2 separate regions of the Homo sapiens genome follow, and region 2 is linked to region 1. The links come from fine-mapping of genetic effects on plasma protein levels. A gene starts in region 1. The other region holds a variant in brackets. All regions are shown on one strand. Distances are between the middles of the regions.

Region 1 (9,828 bases):
TTCAAAGATTCTCTTCTTGACCAAACTGAGCTTTGAGCTCCTGAACCTTCTCTTAGACCTATGCATGCACTTCCTTGTAAAATCCAGTTTTAGGAAGAACGTGGCTAAGTCAGGTTACCAACATCCTCCCACCCTGCCTATCTGATCACCCTCGATATCCAACTGGGTTCCCCCTCCTCCACCATCCCCAGGTGATGTCTGACCATCCTGGCCCATCTTCAGCAAGAATCCTGTTAGGTCGGCATAGCCAGAGTCCCCCCATACTCGTCTTAGTAATGTTCCAGCCACCACTCCCACCCTGTTCCTTGGCTATAAATTCCTACTTTCTCATGCTGCATTCGGAATTTAGCCTAGTTCTATACTGGGGTCTCTTACCCCTATTGCAGTAGTCCCAAATAAAATCTGCTTTCACCACTTTAACTACTGTTCAGTTCTGTGGGGTTTTTTTGTTTGTTTTTCTTGAACACCTCCTTATCTTCCTGGATGTTCAGCAGTGTTTGGCATTGCTGATCACACCCCAGTCTCTTCCTGAAACACTCTTTTCCCTTTGTTCTGTGAGCCCACTCCCTCCTTCTTCAGGATAAGATGTGAGCTCCTTTGCATAGCGCACAAGGCCCTCTATGCTGCGGGAACACAGGCTCCTCTTGCCCTCTGCTGCCTCCTCTCCCAGCAATCCTTCCACATATTCTTCTCACCAGCTCCTCAGATACGCTCTGGTTCTATCAAGACGTACTAGGCTGAGCATGGTGGCTCACACCTGTAATCCTAGCACTTTGGGAGGCTCAGCAGGGCAGATTGCTCGAGCCCAGGAGTTCAAGGCCAGTCTGGGCAACATAGGGAAACCCTGTCTCTACAAAAAACACAAAAATTAGCTGGGCATGGTGGCACACACCTGTGATCCCAGCTACTTGGGAGGCTGAGGTGGGAGGATCACCTAAGCCCAAGGAGGTTGAGGCTACAGTGAGCTGTGATCATGCCACTGCGACAGAATGAGACCCTGTCTCAAAAAAAAAAAAAAAAAAAAAAAAAGACAAGCTGCCTTCCTAGTACACATTTTACCTCTTTTCTTCCTCCTCCTCAGTCATCCCTGCATCCCCTATGGAGCAGTTTTTATGTCAGGCATTATGTAAGTACTTTACAACTACACCAACAGGAAATCCACTGCAGAAAACCCCCACTTAGAGTGATTTAGGCATTTATGCAAGGAGAACTTTGTAGAAAAAGTCCAGGGCGTGTATGCAAGCTCATATGCCATCAGCTCCCCAGGCTTGTTCATCCCTAACATGGTAGACTCCAAACTCATGTCTGTGCCTCCTGCTCCCATGATGGCTGCTGTGTCTCCAACACTGTATCCCCTTCCCAGGTAGAAGACAAGGAAGGAGCGAAGAGTTTTCTCCTAGCAAGATAAATCCTCCACAGGGACTTAAGTATATGTGGTCAGTTATGTCACATGGCCCCTTGTAACTGAAATGGGACATGTGTTTTACTTCTCCAGCCTCTATGGTAATAAAAACCAGGAAGAAGGGGGTTGTGAATGGCTTCCGGTTAGCTCATCACCAATGCCTGCCATACATTTCATCTTGTTTCAGTCTCATTTTACCTCATGTAATTCAAGCAATGTTATGATTTAAAGGTTTCTGTTACGTGCATTTCACCAGTGAGAAAATCAAGTCTCAAAAAAATAATACCTACTTTTTACAACCCAGGTCTGCCATCACCTCCTCCTGGCAGAATTCTTTGTATGCCCAACCCTAGGCTGAGTTAGTTATGTGCCCTCCTCTGTGCACCATAGCACCCTAGGCGTGCATCCTTGTTGAAATCTCCAGCTGTCCTAGAGTGGCCTGTGAGCCCCTGCAGTGGGCTGTGAGCCCCACAGGATAAGGCTCTGTAGCCCCCAGGCCTGGGGAGATAACAGGCCTGGAGCTGTACCTATGAGTGTTTGCTGAGTGACAAGCAAGGTGGTGGCCCTGCTCCATGTGGATGTGCCCAGACCCTGGAGCTCTAAAGTATCACATTAGGGAACAGAGACAAATTATAAGGTCCCAGAAGACCCGAGCCACCATGGGAAACGTTGGTGCATGGCTCAGCCAGAGTTCAGAGCACCCCCTGCAGGCTGCGGGTGTCTCTCAGTGACCACAGTGTCCTGAGGCCCAGTGACTTCCTGGGTGGAAACTGAGGCCTGGAGTGTTCCTCCCAGGGCAGTGAGAAAGAGAGAAATAGAAAATCCTTTGCAATGTGGTTTGTGTTACCGCAGCTTCAGCCATGGAAGGGGCTCCTTGAATTAAACAGGAAGCAGAAAATATCAGATTTAGATCCCACATTCCATGCATTGTATACAATTACGCGCTGGAGCCATAGAGGGGCACGTGGGACCCACAGAGGCAGAAAATGGGATTGCTGTTGGGAATGGGGTCGTTCTTTCATGGGAAACCAGTTGCATTCTTGACAGGTGGGCCGAGTCTTCCTGAGGTGCACACTTCACAACCCCAGGGGCACAGGTGAGGCCCTCTCATTTGCTTACAAGGCATTGGTGACAGACATGCTACCAGCTCCCACAATGATGGAGAGTCCCCTTCTCTGCAGCCCCCCAACACCGCTGCATATCTCTGGATTGTAGACCATCCTTGGTGGGCTCACCCCAACTCTCAGGCTCAACAGCCTCCTTTTTACCCATGACTCCTATGTCAGTCTCCAGCCCAGGTCGGCTTCCTGAGGCCCAGGGCCATAAACCCAATCGCATCAATAGGTCCAGCCCTTCAAACACTGCCTGTCTGAAACAGAACCCATCATCCTACCAAAAATATGCTCCTTCTCCAGGTGCCCTGCCACAGAGAATGATACCAATGTCCAGCCACTCACAAGAGCCAAACCATAGTGGTATCTTATCTCTTCCCGCCCACACCCATTGGATTCCCAAGTCTTGACCAACTCCTTCTCCTAAGGCCCTCTTACCCGTCCCCTCTTCTCCACCTGGGTGGCCATCACCCTAGTTCATGGGACCATTGTCTCTTGTCTGGATTGTTCTGCAGTCCAGCTCATCTTCATACCTTCAACATGCTCCAAAACCCTGCCCACGCCCTAGCTGGCCCAGCCACTCCTATGTCCCTGACCCTCTGATGGCGCTGTGTTGGCCTCAGGATCAGGCAAAGCCCTGGCCTTGGTGCACTAGGCTGTCCACACCCTGGCTCCTGCTGGCCTCTTCCCCCTGTTCCCTGGTGTTCCTATCCTGTCGCTAGGGCTTTGCACGTGACATTCCTTCTAATCTATTCTATCCATATTTCTTCAGGTTTTCCCTTGGACTTCAGCTCCTTTAGAAAGCCTTTCCAGACCCCCACCCACTCCCCATGTAGGAGGGCAAAGAAGTCCACTGAAGGCATCTAAAGTGTCTTATTCACTGTGTTTCTGTCTGTTGGATAAATGTGAGTGCAATGGTGACTGCTCGACTGCCTGGCACTACACTCAGACTCCTGGAATGCTGAAGCCTATACTGCTTTCTGTCCAGACCCTGAACTCCCTTTCTCTAAAGTAGGGCATGCCAATTTAAACAAAACACGGAGGACCATTTGCAGCCATGAACACGGCCCTGCAGACGGACAGGCCGATGAGCAGCAGAGCAGACAGGGGTTCCCGCCATCATCCCAGCTCTTCACTGCAGCCTTCAAGGGTCTCCCTCAGAACTTTCATTCATTGTCATACTTCATTCATGATTGCTCATCTTGCCTATAAACAAATCTGAGACAAATAATAAGGCATATCAATGTCCGTATTTATTCAAGAGATACATTGGGGAAAGTCATTTTTCAAAATCTTTTACTGTAGGATTTCTTCACTAAAATCTGTAAAAACTGGTAGATATTGTTGGTGATGCTGGTGGCGGTGGTTGATAGGCTCAGGAAACATGGCTGACATCGCCCTGCCGTGAATTCTGGTATAGTTAAGCCCAGCTTCTCTTTCTTTTTGTCACTGGGGCTCTGGGTGGAGGGAGTAACAGAACAGGGGCAGCAGTTTGCACCTTCTGCTGGCCCTGTTTGCAGACTCAGCTTTTCTTTCCCTGGGCTACGTTGGCAGGTGATACGATCTCTCTGTTCCTCACCCCATGGAGAGGTGAATCTAAAATGAGTGGGTCTGTTAGGGTCTGCATGTCTGTACGTTCCCCTTCTGAGGGGAACTGGCTCCTGGACCCCGTTGCCCTGCTCCAGCTGGGGACCCAAGTGCAGCCATCCCAGGCAGGCCCGGCCCCGGGAGGCCTCCACCAGGGCTCTGCCAAGCAGCAGAGGCTGCCTCTCTAAAGATCCCCTGTCGGGAGAGTGCCTGCCATTTATGGAGCGGGCAGGCAGTAGGAACCAGATAGGCGAGCTAGCTGGAGGCAGCAAGCTCAAGGGGACTGGGCTGCTGCGTGGCGTTCACTGTGCAGCTTGAAGAAGACCCCACGAAGCCTGGACAGAGCCCCAGCTTGGTAAATATTTGTTGACCGATCGGTTGAATGAAATGGTCTTGGGGCAGAGGGGGAGTGGTTTTGTAATGGGGACTGGCGGCGGAAACAGCAGAGTCCCGTCTCTCTAACGGCTAAACTTTAGCGCAAAACAGACACACCGATTAAGGTTCACCGTGTGCCAGGGCCAGGCTGGGCTTCTTCTAGGTGGTTGCGGCGGGCGCGGCTCAGCCTGGGTGCTCCGGAAGCTCCGAGCAGCGCAGGCCGACGGCGACCGTGCGGGACCCGCCCAGCCGCGCTTCCGCCCCGCCTCTGGCCACAGGCGCGAACTGCGCGGCCGCTGCCACCAGGGGGCAGGCCAGGGCAGCGGGAGGCAGGGCGGGGACGCGGTGACGCGGGCACTGCCGGGTCCCGTGACTGCGCGCCCCGCCCGGAGTCCCCGCCGCCGTCATGCAGTCCCCGGCGGTGCTCGTCACCTCCAGGTGAGCCAGACCCCCGCGCCCCACACCGCACAGCTCGCAGTCCGGGGCGCCCGGGCGGAGAGGCGGGGGGAGGCCGCCGCCTCCTAGGCCAGGGACCTGGTGCAGGTCTCCCCAGCGCCCTCGGTGGCTTATCCGGGCTGGGCCCCTGCACCGCCCTGCAGGAGAGGTGGCGACCCCGATTTACAGATGAGGAAACCGAGGCCCTCTGGAGGGTAGAGAACTAGCCAAGGACAGCGGGAGCCCTGGGACTGACTGGTTCAGTGCAGGCGGGCGCAGTGGGGACTCTGCTCTCCTTTCCTACCGCCTTGGGTTCTTCTCTTTTGAGCCCGAAAATCTAGTTCCCCATCCTTTCAGAGCTCCCTGAGTCCCAGGCCCGGTGCTGGGCACTGGGGACAGAGGCGAATCAGACAAGCTCGCCCTGCAGGGGGCTGCAGCGGAGAGGGGGTGATGCCAGCAGCGGGTAGTAAGCTCAGGTTGCCATGGGAACACAGTACAGGGCAGGAACCCGGTTTCTGGGAGGATGAGTTTGATGAGAGACCAGGGAGAGGTCGTTGCTGCTTGCGAGGCAGCTCAGGAGAGCGCAAGTTACAGCAAAAGCCTTGGAGGGGTCCAGGCGGAGGATGCAGAATGGGTCGGCCCTGATCGAGACCTGGAGGACCCAGCCCAAGGTGGATCCTGGCAAGGCTGGGAGGCACGTGCTTTTACTTCTTTCCGCCTTTAAAACGCTGTAAAGTGATTTACTTCAAATATTTTCATACACTTCACCCTTGCTCTCCCTACACAAAGTCTTAGGCTAAGATGCCAATTTATGACATAAATGAACGTGTTACCCAGCCAACTGTTGATCTTCCAGTTGTAATCAGGAATTCCCCGTGACTTCAGGTCTAGAAAGGTATGATTCCTTTTGTAAACCCTGATGTCGGAGGCTGCTTGGTCTTTCATGATCAAGTGTGGTTACAGTTGTATCTTCATGGGCAGAAGAGGTTTCCCTACTGCCACTTACGTCACCTCCTCTCACCAAGCCTCAGTTTCCTTTTCTGTGAATTGGAGGTTTCAGATTGGCAGGCATGAGCAACGTCAGTAGTATATGCCCCTCAGCCATGTGCAGATGGATGGGGTGTGACTTTGGTGCTGGGTGCTTGGGATGGGGTGGGTGGCTTCCCTCCCTGCCCCGCTGCACAGCCTGGACGTGGCTTGTTAACAGATGTGGGGGCGCTGGCGGTGGTAAGGCCACATGAGTCAGGCTCATTTCTTGCTGAGGGCACCAGCACACCCAAGGATCTTGCCTGCAGGGTGAGTCCAAACGCCTTAGCCCAGCAGCAAGGCCGGCCCTTCCCAGTCGCACCCCAGCTCCTCTTTCCAGCCCGATCTCCTCCCACATGTCATTGCCACATGCACTCAAGCTTGAATTCAGCCAGAAGGTGTTTATCGAGAGCCTTCTCTGTACCGGGTACTGGCCCTAGTTCTAGGAGACAAACAAGTCCCTCTCGTAGAGCTTTAATGAGGGCACAGGCCCAGTGGGCAAATCTACGACATGTCAGGGATGATACATGCTATGAAGGAAAACAAAACAGTGGGGGCAACAGAGTGGTAGGAGGCATGCATGCTGTTTTCTATGGTGTGGTAAAGAGGCATCTTTCTGATGGAGTGGCGCCTGGACAGATCCCGGACAAGCTCCATGAGGGAGAGAGCCATGAAAAAGAAATCTTGGAAAAGTGTGTACTGGGAGGACAGGACAGCAGGAGCCAGGGTCCCGAGGCTGGTATGCTGGAGTGGAGTGAGCCCAGGGAGAGTGTTAGGTGATGCGGTGAAGAGGCAAGCTTGGGAGTGAAGGATGATCAGGAAAGGCCGAGAAGGCTGTGGAGGGGCCATCAGATTTAATTTCAAGTGCAATAGGGCCCAACTTCTGGTTTATAGAGATCCTTTGGCTGCTATGCTGAGCATGGGCAGTGGCCGAGCTGAGCATTCAGGACAGGCTTGTAGGTTTCCATGTAGAGCCGGTGGTGGCTTGGCCCGGGGTGATGGCGGCCGTGAGGGTGAGAAATGTTTGGGTTCTCGATATATTTTGAAGATTGAGCTTTCAGGTTTGCTGATGCTTGGATATGGGGTGTGAGAACAAGAAGAGAAGTTAAGACTAACGGCAAGTCTCTCAGCCTAAGCTGCTGGAAGAATGAGGCTGCCCTTTAGCAGGCTTGGGGAGAGGTAGAAGCAGCATTTGTGTAGACAGGTGAGTTTTGAGAAGCTCGTTGACAGCCCAGTGGGGATGTCAGGCAGCTGCAGCTGGAAGGAGGCTGGCTGTGAGGGGAGAGTGAGCTAAAGATGGGAGTTGGGGAGCCATTGGCTCGGAAATGGTATTTAAAGCCTGGAGCCTGGATGAGATCACCTGGGGAGGGGTACAGTGAGAGGAAGAAGGAGGGTGCTCTGGATGCTATCAAGGGGAACCATCCAAAGCAGTTCCTCTCCTCCTGTTTGAGCAAGAGTGGCCAGGGTGGGCAGAGAAGAACCAAGAGTGAGGGGGTGCTCCAGCCACCAGTGAAGGCAGAGCTTGAAGGAGGGGAGTGGCTGACTGTGCCCACTGCTGCTGACAAGTCAGACCAGAGGAGAAATGAGGATTCACCTTTGGATTTAACCACATGGAGGTCGCAGATGACCTGGGCGTGGGCAGTTTGTTGCATGATGAGGACCAAAGTCTGGCTGGAAAGGGTTCAAGATCAAACAGGAGGAGAGGAACCCATGAATATGGGGCCCTCTGTTGAGGAGTTCTGCTGGAAAGGGCAGGAGGGAAACGGAGCAAGGGGAATGTCGGGTCAAAGCACAGCTTTTGTTACATGAGTGGTCAGAGCATGGTTGCATGCTAATAAGCGTGGGCCAGTAAGGAAGGAAAATCGATGGTGCGAAAAAGAGGGGTGAGCTGCAGCAGCTATGTCCTTCAGTAGGTGGGAGGGCCTCGGAGCCGCTGCCCTGGTAGAAGGTTGGCCTTAGGAGCAGCCAGCCAGTTTGTCTACAGTCCCAGGAGAGGGCAGCTATCAGGGAGCAGCTGCAGGCTGATGGGCAGATGTGACAGCGAAGCCTAGGATGTTCTCCGATGGTCTCTGGAGCAGTACACAGCAGTGTCCACATCACTTGGGAATTTGCTAGAGATGGTGAGGGCACACCCCGGGGCCTGCAGAACCAGAATCTGCATATTAACAGGATCCCCAGGGGGTTGCACGCACATTACAGTTGGAGAAGCTTGGTCTAGGGCACATCCTGCCCACCACACCCCCATTTGTTTATGTACTCTCCGTAGCAGCTGCAGCAGAGACCAGATACCCTACACAGCCTGAAATATTTGCTATCTGACCCTGTAGAGAAAGTTTTCCTATGGGTTCAGGGAAGTGGGAGGGTGATGGAGTAGGCCCAGGTGCATCAGACTCGTCGGAGGGCTTACTAAGAAAACAAGATGGCTGGCCACCCTAGGCCCGAACATGCCTTTCTTACAAGTTCCCAGGCGATGCTGATCCTGATCCAGGGACCACACTTTGAGAACCCCACATCTAGGGCAAGGTAGGGTTGCCAAGCCTGGTGTGGTGCTGTGCCTTCAAGTCTGCAGCCATGAATTTCAATGGGACCAGGCTGCATGTTTACACCATGTCTGTCCCCAGTCACGTTGAGCCACTTGGGCACAGGGTGAAGGAAGCAGAGAACTGGAGAAGTGGGCTTTGACCAGGCCAGCTCAGCTCTGGGTAAGAAGTCAGGGGAGCTGGGCCTAAGGCAGAGGGATTCCAGCAATGGAATGGGACCCTGGAAAAGGGGTGGGGTTATGGATTGTGGGTTCTGGCGTGGTCAGAGAACCATTGGATGTGGGGTGCTGTGAGGGAGCTGGATCGTGGGAGGTGCCCATCTGGGTCTGCTCCATCCCTTTCCCACCCCTGAGAGGACCTCCCCGCAGCTCAGGCACTGCCCTTCTTGTCACTTTCACCCCCCTGTGCCTCGTTTTCATCATGATCCTAAAGAAATGATGCCTGGCTTCTTTCTCATGCCTGCCCCATAAGAGGCCACCTGGGCTCTGGAGCAGCTGCCTGGGATTGAACGCAGCTCCACCTCATGCCGGGTGAGACCTGGGCAGGCACTTTCCCTTTAGGGGTCTGTTTCCCTGTATTTTAAGTGGGTCTGGGTAGCAGAGCTCCTTCGCAGGGTTGCAGGAGGCGGAAGTGACTTCACACAGGTGCATCCCTAGAGCCCAGCGCGTCTCCCCTCAGCATCCAGCCTCACCTTCCTCCTCCACACTGGTGGCAGTGACACCGTGGGTGACACCAGGCCGCGCGTGCACACTGCGTGAACTCGGTGCCGTTGGCAGAGGGCTGGCTGTGCGTGTGCACCTCCCAGTGCCCATTCGGCCCTTGCTGCACTTTTCACCACCTGAAGGCAGGTTGCCTGGGGTGCCCTACGCCGCGGGAGGATATTCCTTGTGTGTACAGCACTCAGTCATTGGGTGTCATACATGGCATAGGAGACGCATCACTGTAGGCCTCACCAGTTGGTGACAGCAGCGTTGTGCTGGTGACAGCGTGGCCTAGCGTGGGATGTGAGGGGTCCGTGTGGGAGGAGTGCTGGGGCAGGGGGATTTGATGGATTGGGGTATAATTCCAGAGAGGGAAGGGCCTTGCCCCAGACACAGGTTAAGCTCCAGAAGCTCCTCCCGTGTTTTCAGGGTCCTGCCCAGCACACAGGAGGTCTCACCTCGATGGTCAGAGCTGCTCAGAGGGTGCCCCACGTGTCCTGCCAGAGGTGTTTGCGTGAGGGATGTTAGTCTGCACAGGTCTGTGTCTCACCTTATGTAGGATGAGGGATGTATTTAATAACTTTTTCCACTTCAAGAAAAACATCTCATCACTTCTTTGCTCATCATACAATTCATTATATTCGAATTGC
Region 2 (9,576 bases), 11 kb after region 1:
AGAGACAGATACAGATGGGGACAGGAGCACCTGGGGGGCTCTGGGGGTATAGAGAAGGGGCACCTAACTGACCCTGGGGAAACTTCTTGGAAGAGGCGGTGGCTGAGCTGTGTTTTGAGGAACAGATGGGGCTCAGCAGGAGAGGTGAGAAGGGTGTCCCGGGCAGACAACACATCCTAAGCAAAGGCACGGAGGTTGGAAATAGGACATTGAGTGGGAACTCTGCACAGTTGAGTGTGGTCCTGGGAGGAAGCGGGGAAGATGAAGGTGAGTGACAGGCAGGATCCAGATTGTGGAGAGTCTGCGGGAGCCTGGACTTAACCTGCAGCCAAGGAGAGTTTTAAGCAGGGGAGTGACGTGGACCCTTTTGCCTTTAACCAGCCAATCTGCTGAGAGCATGGAGTTGGATTGGAAGGAACAAAACAGGTGTCAGGGAGCCCAGATACATGGCCAATATGGTCATTCCCAAATCAAGGGCTTGGAGCAGGCCAGTTGCACTTGGTATGGAAGGGAAAGGGAGAGTTGAAAATGTTTACTGGGTAACATGCACCACATTTGCTGACTGTTTCCACCAACTGAAATAAAGAATATGATGGAGGAGCAGACCTAGGGGGCATGTGGAGTGTGAAGTGTCTGCCCTGTGGATGGATACATGAGGCTGGAGCTCGGGACGAGCTCAGGCCTGAGATGTAGGCTTGGGAGTCATCAACTTGGAGGTGATATTAAAAATCTGGGAGTGGATCAAGTTGCCCAGAGAACAGAAGTGGAAGGCAGAGAGAAGGGCTGAGGAGGAAATCCTGAGGATGCCAGGGGTTCAGGGACTCTTGGGGAGAAGGAGGAGTCTGCAGTTGAGGCAGAGAGGAGAGAACTGGGTGGGTATCTACGGAGTCAGAGGAGCTAAGGGAGGAGAGAATTTCAAGAGGGTTGAGATCACACACTCATTGGCTTATTATTTACCATTTGGCCTCTTGTGAAAAGGACCTGCAGCTGGAGACCAAGAGACACAGGTCCAGGATTATTAGGACAAAGGTGAAATGAACTAGACCCCGAAGTACAGCAGGGAGTGACACGGGGCTAGCTTGGAGTCTCCTGGCAACCAAGATAAAAAGGGAAACGATGAGTTGCATCTTTCTGGTGACCTGTTGAAAGAGACACTAAATTTTAAGAGAAATTTACAGCACAAATGTTTCCTTTTTTTAAGAGATAGGATCTCCCTCTGTTCCCCAGACTGGAGTGCAGTAGTGTGATCATAGCTCAGTGCAGCCTGGAACTCCTGGGCTCAAGCAATCCTCCTGCCTCAGCCTCCTAAGTATCTAGGACTACAGGCACACACCACCATGCCCAGCTTTTTCTTTTTTAATTTTTTTGGTAGACATAGTGTCTTGTTATGTTGTCCAGGCTGGTCTCAAACTCCTCAAGCTGGGCTTAAGCAATCCTCCTGCCTCAGCCTCCCAAAGTGCTGGGATTACAGGTGTGAACCCCCACGCCCAGCCACACAATTTTAAGGGACATTCAACAACGTCATGAGAAGCGTCTAGAATAGCAATGCTGTTTTTCATTTGATTGCTCCTGTGGCCGACTCTTGGTGAGAAGCAACGTGTGATGTCAGGGGTGATTCTGGGCCTGCATTGCTCTGAGAGTGAATCTGCTTTACAGGGTGCTTTGCAGCTCCTGGTAATTTGACTTGATCCAGGTTGGAGCTCAATGCACCCACATTTTCAGAGACAGGAGCAGAAGAGGAGAGTATTTGAGCTTGATGTTGCGGGGCATGAAGGAGGGAGCATTCTGGGAAGCTTGGGCTTCAGCCGCCCAGCCCACTTGGTTCTGTGCAGAGGGCCGGCCTTACATGCAAGGTGTACATGAGGGTGTTTTAACACCTCCATGAATCACACTAGTGCCACTTTTTCCTAGGCAGTGACGCCCACTCCTCGTGGAGTGTGTGCGTGCAGGGGCTTGTCAGACATTTGAAAGTACTTGCGAGGGCAAAGAACTCCTTTACTCCCCATGGGATCTCAGGATGGAGCCTAAAGTTACATACCCCCAAGCCTGAAGTCTCTTTGATGTTTCATGAATTAACTCAAAGAATTAATGAGCATTTTGTATCTACTTAAAAGGGCATATGTGTTTTAATATAAACGTGTACTGATTTGCTGACCATGGAGTAAAACAGCCGCAGGAGGGGGCACCGCAGTGGAGGTTGTGCAGGCTCTTGGATGTGCTAGCAGTGCAGACACCCACAAGCTTACTAACGTTACAGGGCTGTCTGCCCCGTGCTCAGCAGTGCCTGGCACACGGGGGCACCAGATAAATGTGAGTTCTCAACCTTGAGCTTCCTCTGCTCAGGGTCTCTTACTTGGCCTCCTCTTGTTGCTGGTGCAGATGCCCACCCAAGAAGCCCTGCCTGAACCCCTGATGGACGTGGGCCCTGGGTGGGGTGGGAGCCCAGGCCTACAGCTCCGGAGTACTCACGATGCCAGTGCCCTGGAGATGGAGGTTCCCCGAGCCTGGATATGCTGGGTCTGTGGTCTGAGCCTGAGGGGAGCAGTCGGGCCAGCAGGGGGCGCCCGGCCCCCACCGTGGCCTGCTCTGCGGGCCGGGCTGGAGTCACAGCTGCTGTCGGAGCCTGTGTTAGCAATCGCTCTGGGAAGGGGTCCGTGTGCCTTTCCCTGAGGGCTGTTTTCAGGAAAGTCTGGAGCCAGGCTCTTGTGCTGACAACTGCAAGCAGCACCTGTCCCAGGTGACTCCCCACTGGAGGTTCTGAAATCCCCCCAGCTGCCTCCTGGTATCTTGACCCTTCACAGGCTGGGCATTCTGGGTGGTGTTGCTGGAGCCAAGGATGTGTGTTCCAGACACACCCTGCACCAAGGGATCTCCCCGAGCCCGAGGGCGTCAGATGCCCGCAGCCCCTGCACGCCAGCACTCCAGTGGCACACTGTGGGCACAGTCCGGGCCTGGGAGCATAAGAGTGAGTGACCCACACTTCAGTCGGGGGAGACAGGCCCAGTCTATGGGGAAAGCACAGAGGAGCGAGGAGTGAGGGTAGGTGCCAGGATGATGGTGTGTGCATACAGCAGGTGATAGAGGAGCTAGGAGTGAGGGTAGGTGCCAGGCCGATGGTGTGTGTATACAGCAGGTGACTTCGCTGAGCACCCACATGGTTACAGACACGGCGATGGCACTGAAACCACTGTGAGACTGAGAGCCTGCTGGGGTGTCTCTGTACAGAGTGAACATGCAGCAAGAGCTCCGTGAGTGAAGGGGTGAAGGCTTAGCTGCCCAGGAGCTGTGGGGAGAGGCCAAGGAGGCAGCGGGAGTCAGCCGCTGGCCCCACGGGAAGCTGAGTGCTGCCCTCTCTGAGTCAGATGGTGCTCAAGGCTGCCTTCTGATGACAGCAAGAGTCCTGGCCTGCTTGACTCGGGTGCCTGCGTGCAGAGAGGTCCTGCCTGACGCAGGGCAGAGAACAAGCCTTGGAAATATCTGTCTCCACTGCTTGCATTGGCTGGCCCGCCGAAGGCCACACTGGTTCACGGGAGAATGAGGTTGGTGCTGAGAACAGATGATTCACGGTGTTGCAGGAAGATGACCTGCCAGCCGGTGAGATCACCCTCCTGATATGCAGAAAGCTGGGAATGAACACAGTGGCCCTGATCACGTGCAGGCTGGGCAGGGGTCCCTGTATCAAATCTTGTTAACTGGACCTGTGACAGTGTCCAGAATGGCACCGTTATTGCATCTTTCCTCTGGGCCACTAAGATGTTTTTATTGAATCTGCTATCGGCCAGGCGTGTTAAGGACTGGAGCCTGAGGCTGGGAGACAGGCAGAGGGGCAGCAGGCGGGCGTACCTGGCACACTTCCTTTGGCTGCTGGGCCTTGGGAACCCCTGGTCGGGGTGAGAAAGGAGCACTGCCTGCCACTCTTCACTCAGGAAACCACATGCTCCTCTCATTCCAGGTCTCCAAAAAGTACAGCGAGATTGAGGAGTTTTACCAGAAACTGAGCAGTCGTTATGCAGCAGCCAGCCTCCCCCCACTACCCAGGAAGGTCCTGTTTGTTGGGGAGTCTGACATC[C/T]GGGAGAGGAGAGCCGTGTTCAATGAGATCCTGCGCTGTGTCTCCAAGGATGCCGAGTTGGCAGGCAGCCCAGAGCTGCTAGAGTTCTTAGGTACCCAAGGCTCTGCCCCATGTCCCTCAGGTCTCCCCGGCCCAGAACTAGGCCCCGCTGCCGTGCCCCAGTGGGAGCATGTCCACAGCTGCCTCTGCAGCCTGGAGGCTTCAGCCAGGCTGGTGAGGCAGGTGGCCTCGCTGACATCCTTGGCTGGATGGTGGGCAGAAGGAGGCCTACCCTTGAGGGACTGAACGTCTGGCTGTCAGGTGGGGGCTCACACAGCAGGCATTCTCCATAGTGTGACCCCATCCATGGCCTTCCTGGCCAGCCCCATTCCTAGAGCTTGCCCGACACCCCCCGACTGACCATGCACCACATACAACCCCCTGACACACACCCCACACTCCCCTCTGCCTCCTCCAACCAGCCCTAGGGACCTGCAGTATCCCGGGAAAGCTGTGTTCTCACAGCCTGGCTGGTGACCTGCCCCTGGGGACATGTGCTTCTCACCTGTGCCCCCACAGAGAGGGTCATGGGGACAGCTCCGGGCTGAGGAATTGATCCAGCACCCCTGCCCCCAGTGGTGGAGACGTCAAGCCCTTCCCATGGGTGTCCTGGCCCTGTCTTCTCTCCTCAGTTTTCTCATCTGTAAGGTGGGAGTAGCCTGGCTGATAGGCCGTTATGAGAATTTACAGAGCTAACACATGCAAAGTCCTTAGAACAGAAACAACCACAGTAAATAGTGGCTACAATTTTACCCCACTCCTCGGTTAGTCCTGTCAACCCAGAACCCCCGTGGGGCAGGCCCTGGTCTCACAGATGCCCCCAGGACAAGGCAGGTTCTCACCACTGCTGGTGCCGGACTCCCACCCCTTCTCCCCTCTTTACATCCGTCTGCTTAACTCCTTCCCAGCTACTGTGGATCTCCTAGTTCCACAAGACAGAAGGGAAGTTTTCAAAAGAAAGTTGACCGTAAATAAAACAAATTATTTAAAGTGAAAGGTGGGGAAGAGAAGCAAAACTGGTGAATGCGCAGGCCTAGGACTGGACAAGCTGCACAGCCCCGGTGTCCTGTGGCCATGTTGGGCCCCTCACATGGGTCTGGGTTCTCTTCTGCCCTTGTTGTTCCAAGGTCACAACCCTTCCTTCCTTGCCTGTCTCTGGGGCTGGGTAGACTGTGCCAAGAGGTTCCAGCTCAGCCATCGCTGGAAGAGATGCTCAGGATGTCCCAGCCCCTCTCTGGTGGAGAGGCAGGATAGAAACACAAGCTGCTCTATGCCTCACTTTGCTCATCTGCAAGATGGATGTACAGTAGGGATCTCTCTCATAGGGCTTTTGTGATGTTTAAATGTAAGATGCTTATGACATGAAATTGAAGGTTTGGGAGATTTTGAATGGCTTTTCACATTTGTCCAAGTAAAATAACAGAGCATCACATAATACGATATCGTCATTATCACTCAGTGCATCCTGTATGCCAGACACTCTCTAAGTTCTTTACCTACAAGGTGATTTTATTAAAAGTCAGTTGTTTTAAACTACCCAGTAAGCACTTGGATAGAAATGAACAAATAGTCTGAGCCCACGCTTCTCAAACTATCTGTGGCAAGGGCTAGCTCTTTTATTCCCAGCCTGTCACAGATGGATACTTTCACAAATACAAAAGCACACTTGGGTATTGTGATGATGGCAGCATGCTATGAAGTTTCTGGATGCTTGCTCTCCCTTTCTCTACTTACCTCATTGTGGTCACACAGGGGGCATTCTCTGTCTGAAGACCACACTTCAAGAAGCGCTCATCTAAGCCAGTTTGTAATGGAGTGATTACCGTTTGTTCTGGAATCTTCCACATGCTTACCCTGGGCACCCATCCAGTCCACAGTCCAGGTGCCCAGACTCTCGGGGCAGGTCTCTGTCTGCAGAGTTCCTTGCCGTGCCTCCAACTGTAAATGGTTCTGGCTGTACTGGTTCTTTTTGAATCACCCTGTGCCCTGGCTGTTGTATCCCACCGCTCACCCGGGAGGAGGGTGCAGCCATCCCTGCGGCGCACACAGGCTCTGGGCCTTGGGTTCAGGAACCGCTGCCCCTGTCTTGCTCTGAAGCTCCCACTTGTGACCACTCCACTCCAGGCTTCCTTGGTGCCCGTCAGCCCTTGGGGGGCTGCAGCAGGCACTTGGCTGCCCCCGAAACGGAGGTCACCTTCCATCCACCCAGACTCGCCATCCTGCTTAGGTCCCAGGAGGGACGAGTTTGGTCCCAGGAGGCTGCAGGAAGCCCTCGGCCTCAGATCCTGGCATGGGAGGGTGCAGTGTGGCAAGATGCCTCCCCTGGCTCTGGGGTGGTTACCAAGTCCATTCTTTTCTGTCTTCCTCCACAGGTACCAGATCCCCAGGGGCTGCAGGGCTCACCAGCAGAGATTCCTCTGTCCTGGATGGCACAGACAGTCAGACAGGGAATGATGAAGAGGCTTTCGACTTTTTTGAGGAGCAAGACCAAGTGGCAGAAGAGGGTCCGCCCGTCCAGAGCCTGAAGGGCGAGGATGCTGAGGAATCCTTGGAGGAGGAGGAGGCGCTGGACCCTCTGGGCATTATGCGGTTGGTCTCCTGTTGTTGAGAGGGCCCCTTTGGTGTATTCCAGGCTTTCTGGAGATGACGTCCCCCTTCCCTGGAATCTGAGAAAAGCCCTGAGCATCCCAGGTCGCCCCCTCGCAGGGATCTGGGCCACGAGGCCTTGGCCTGGTGTGTTGGGGGAAGTAGCTCTCTGCGTGCCCTTGGTGGTGTGCATGTCTCTGGGACTGGGCTTAGGTGTCGCCTCCCTTCTCGGGTCACAGGATGTCCTCCACTTGTGGCTCCGCACTGGGGCTTGGTAGAGTCCTCCGTGACAGCTCAGTAGTGCAGGCTGCGGGCCTGTCCGGCTAGTGTGGGAGGACTGGGTGCTCCTTCCAGCTGTGGGACTCGCAGAGGTGGCTGCGGCTCTCTGGGCTGCATCATCTGCATAGCAGGAGCATTCACCTTGGCCCTGCCTCCACACAGGGCCATTCACCAGCCATACATCTCTGGCCATTTACAATCTCTTTTCTTCGGTTTTCCTCAGTGAAAATGGACTCATGGTCGTATCAACCTCTTAGGGCTCCTGTGACGATGAACTGAGTTATGTAAATTTAGCAATCAGCTACCATCATGGCCCCATCTTTCAGTGGAATCAGACCAGGCCAGGGGTGCTGTCCTCCCCGCTCTCTACCACAACGAATGTCTCTTAGCCGTTTACCAAAGCCCTCGGGCGCCAGATGAGTGTAGGTCCTGCCGCAGAAAGGAATTAGAGCCCAGTAGAAATTAGGCAGAAGCAAGTTCAACTTCATCAGCATGTAGAATTCTCTCCTAAAATCACAGCCCACTCTGGAAAGGCCTTCTTCGTGGGGAGGGTTATGGGAGGGTGGGCTGCAGGGTGGCCATGAGACCAGCGTCCAGGGGTGAGGATTTGCACTGGGAAAGGGTACGCGGCGCTCAGGGAGCTGCAGCAGAAACAGGCCTGAGATCTGGGGTCCTGCGGCACCTGGGCACAGCAAGTGCCCTGCAGTCGCTCCTCCTGGCCCTCCGTGGCTGGCCTTGTCCCTGAGTGGGGTCAGCGGCCCTGAGGGAGAGGCAGCCAGAGTAGTGGGTGATATGGGGACAAGCCTGTAATAGTCACTCCTTATCAGCCTGGCCCAACGCGGCAGGCCTTTCTTGGGCTTTATTTTGGTAAGGGTGAGGCTTTGTTTGAACTCACATTCTCTGTTGTTCTGAGTAACCACACGTAGTGCCAAACCGAGATGGACTTTGGTGGTCTGTGCCAACCTTTGGCTGAAGAACACACTTAGCCGAGCGGCTCCTTTTTTGGGTAGGAAAATGTTCTTTGTGGCTGGCAAGTGCTGCCTTGAACTTCCTACTTACTTCATTAGCAGATTGTCAGGGGAGATGTGTCAGCTATCCTGGGACCCCTTGGCGGGGCGGGGGGGGCGGGGGCAGCCCCCTCCCCAGCTCTGTACTCTGGGGCCCTCACCCCTGAATCCTGGGAAAGCTTAGCACCTAAGAGTAATCCTGCCGGCTTAAGACCCTCCCCTGCTGGGGTTTCTTTTTAAGGACCCGTGTGACAAGGTGCTGATGAATCAACGTTATCACCTCTGTCAGGAATAATAAGTAAATTTTTTGAGAGTTTATGAAATGCTGGGAACTAAGTTAGCATTTGCTTGCATGATCTCATTATATCTGTAAGACAGCATTTCTGAAACTACTTGCTACAACCCATAGTAAAAACTATATGGTACGCCATGACCCAGGACACACATGTATAAACATCCCATAAAACTGAAGCAAAAGTTCCCAGAACTCATACAAAACCTTACTAAGTGTATTGTACTGGGATATTTTCTATTCTATTTCAACGTTTGGAAAGGTCATGACTCGCCAAACTGCTTTCAGGATCCACTGTGGGCACAGGTCAAGAAACGGAGCCCTGGAGGCCTGCACTGGCATCAGCCTCTTCTGTGTGGTGGGAAACTCAAGTTCAGGGTCAGGTGGTTCGTCCACGTTCCTGCAGCCTGCAGATGGCAGAGCCAGGACCCCACGCCATCTCCAGTCCAGTCTTTATCAGCCTGGGAGGTGGGCAGGGCCCCAGGATTATCCCCCTTTCACAGATGGTAAAATCGAGGAAGGAGTTGAGCAGGATCTTGGCCAGAGCCGTGTGTGTTCCAGAGCTGTGTGTGTGGCAGAGCCGTACCTTGAAGTTGGGTTTCCACCTCGGCCTTTCACAGACACCCAGGTGGGCTTGTTGATCTCTCTTGGTGCCACCCACCTGCCCTTTGGTGGGGGACTTTCTGTTCTTCTCGGGAGGCTGTTTGTGCACCCCTCTCCCTCCCGTGCGCTTGGTTCCTGTGCAGATGCAGCGGCACCCGTTTCCCAGCTTGCCCTGCCCCATGTCTGGGCTTAGCTCTGGGCTCTCCTGGAGCGGCCACCATTTCCATGCAACCAGCCTCGGTCCTTCCCCGCCGTGGCCGCGGCGAGGCGCTGCTGCTCTGCTGAAGGGCTGCTCCACGGCAGGGCTGCTGGGAGGGTGGGAGTCGCCAGCACAAAGCCGGAGCCCAGGCCGGCCTGGCTTTTCTTTGTCTTTTAAACCTGGTTTTGATTAGGGACAAGAGAGCGTTATTACACCATTAGAGAGCAATTAAAGATAGAAAAAGCCCTCACCTCGGCCCATCCCAACACCACCGCTCTCTCCATCTGCTGGGGCTCTCTTCTGACCCCGTCCCAGCAGCATCCATGCAACCGCAGGCACAATGCACGTGCCTTTTCGTACTCTGCTTTTCCACCCTATGGTCTGTCCCGATTGCTGCTCCATGTCGCCCCTGTTTTGTATTTAAGTTTCTATTTTAGAATGTCACGGTGCTGAGAAAATTGACATTCTACCCTAATAGTTCTGCCTTATGCTGGAAATCCTC

Direction of the effects. Alleles are on the strand shown, and positions count from the first base shown. The strength of an association depends on the size of the effect and on how common the allele is.
As copies of T replace C in region 2, the plasma level of the protein whose gene starts at base 4,848 in region 1 goes down (moderate association).

Evidence for each region. PIP is the chance, under the fine-mapping model, that this variant and not a neighbour inherited with it causes the effect. Protein levels are from antibody-based Olink assays in UK Biobank. Linkage for the fine-mapping came from a reference panel and not from the study's own genotypes, which makes the PIPs less certain.
Region 2: its variant is fine-mapped to the plasma level of the HS1BP3 protein (UK Biobank, PIP above 0.99). The variant lies in the coding sequence of HS1BP3. If it changes the protein, the assay may bind it differently, which can mimic a change of level.

What each region holds. Positions count from the first base shown.
Region 1 is chr2:20,646,118-20,655,945 of GRCh38, reverse strand. HS1BP3 (HCLS1 binding protein 3) reads left to right here and starts at 4,848. Exons shown (of 7, transcript NM_022460.4): 1 at 4,848-4,914. The coding sequence starts at 4,883. LOC105373466 (a long non-coding RNA gene) reads right to left here and starts at 4,664. Exons shown (of 2, transcript XR_001739320.2): 1 at 4,594-4,664; 2 at 3,746-3,971. RefSeq lists enhancers at 4,430-5,167, 5,252-5,401, 5,422-5,501 and a silencer at 4,582-5,171.
Region 2 is chr2:20,635,557-20,645,132 of GRCh38, reverse strand. It overlaps HS1BP3 (HCLS1 binding protein 3), which reads left to right. Exons shown (of 7, transcript NM_022460.4): 3 at 3,953-4,160; 4 at 6,481-6,697. It overlaps LOC124907740 (a long non-coding RNA gene), which reads left to right and starts at 6,704. Exons shown (of 2, transcript XR_007086243.1): 1 at 6,704-8,900. RefSeq lists enhancers at 2,323-2,452, 4,289-4,790, 9,340-9,389. The variant C/T (reference allele first, on the strand shown) is at 4,070.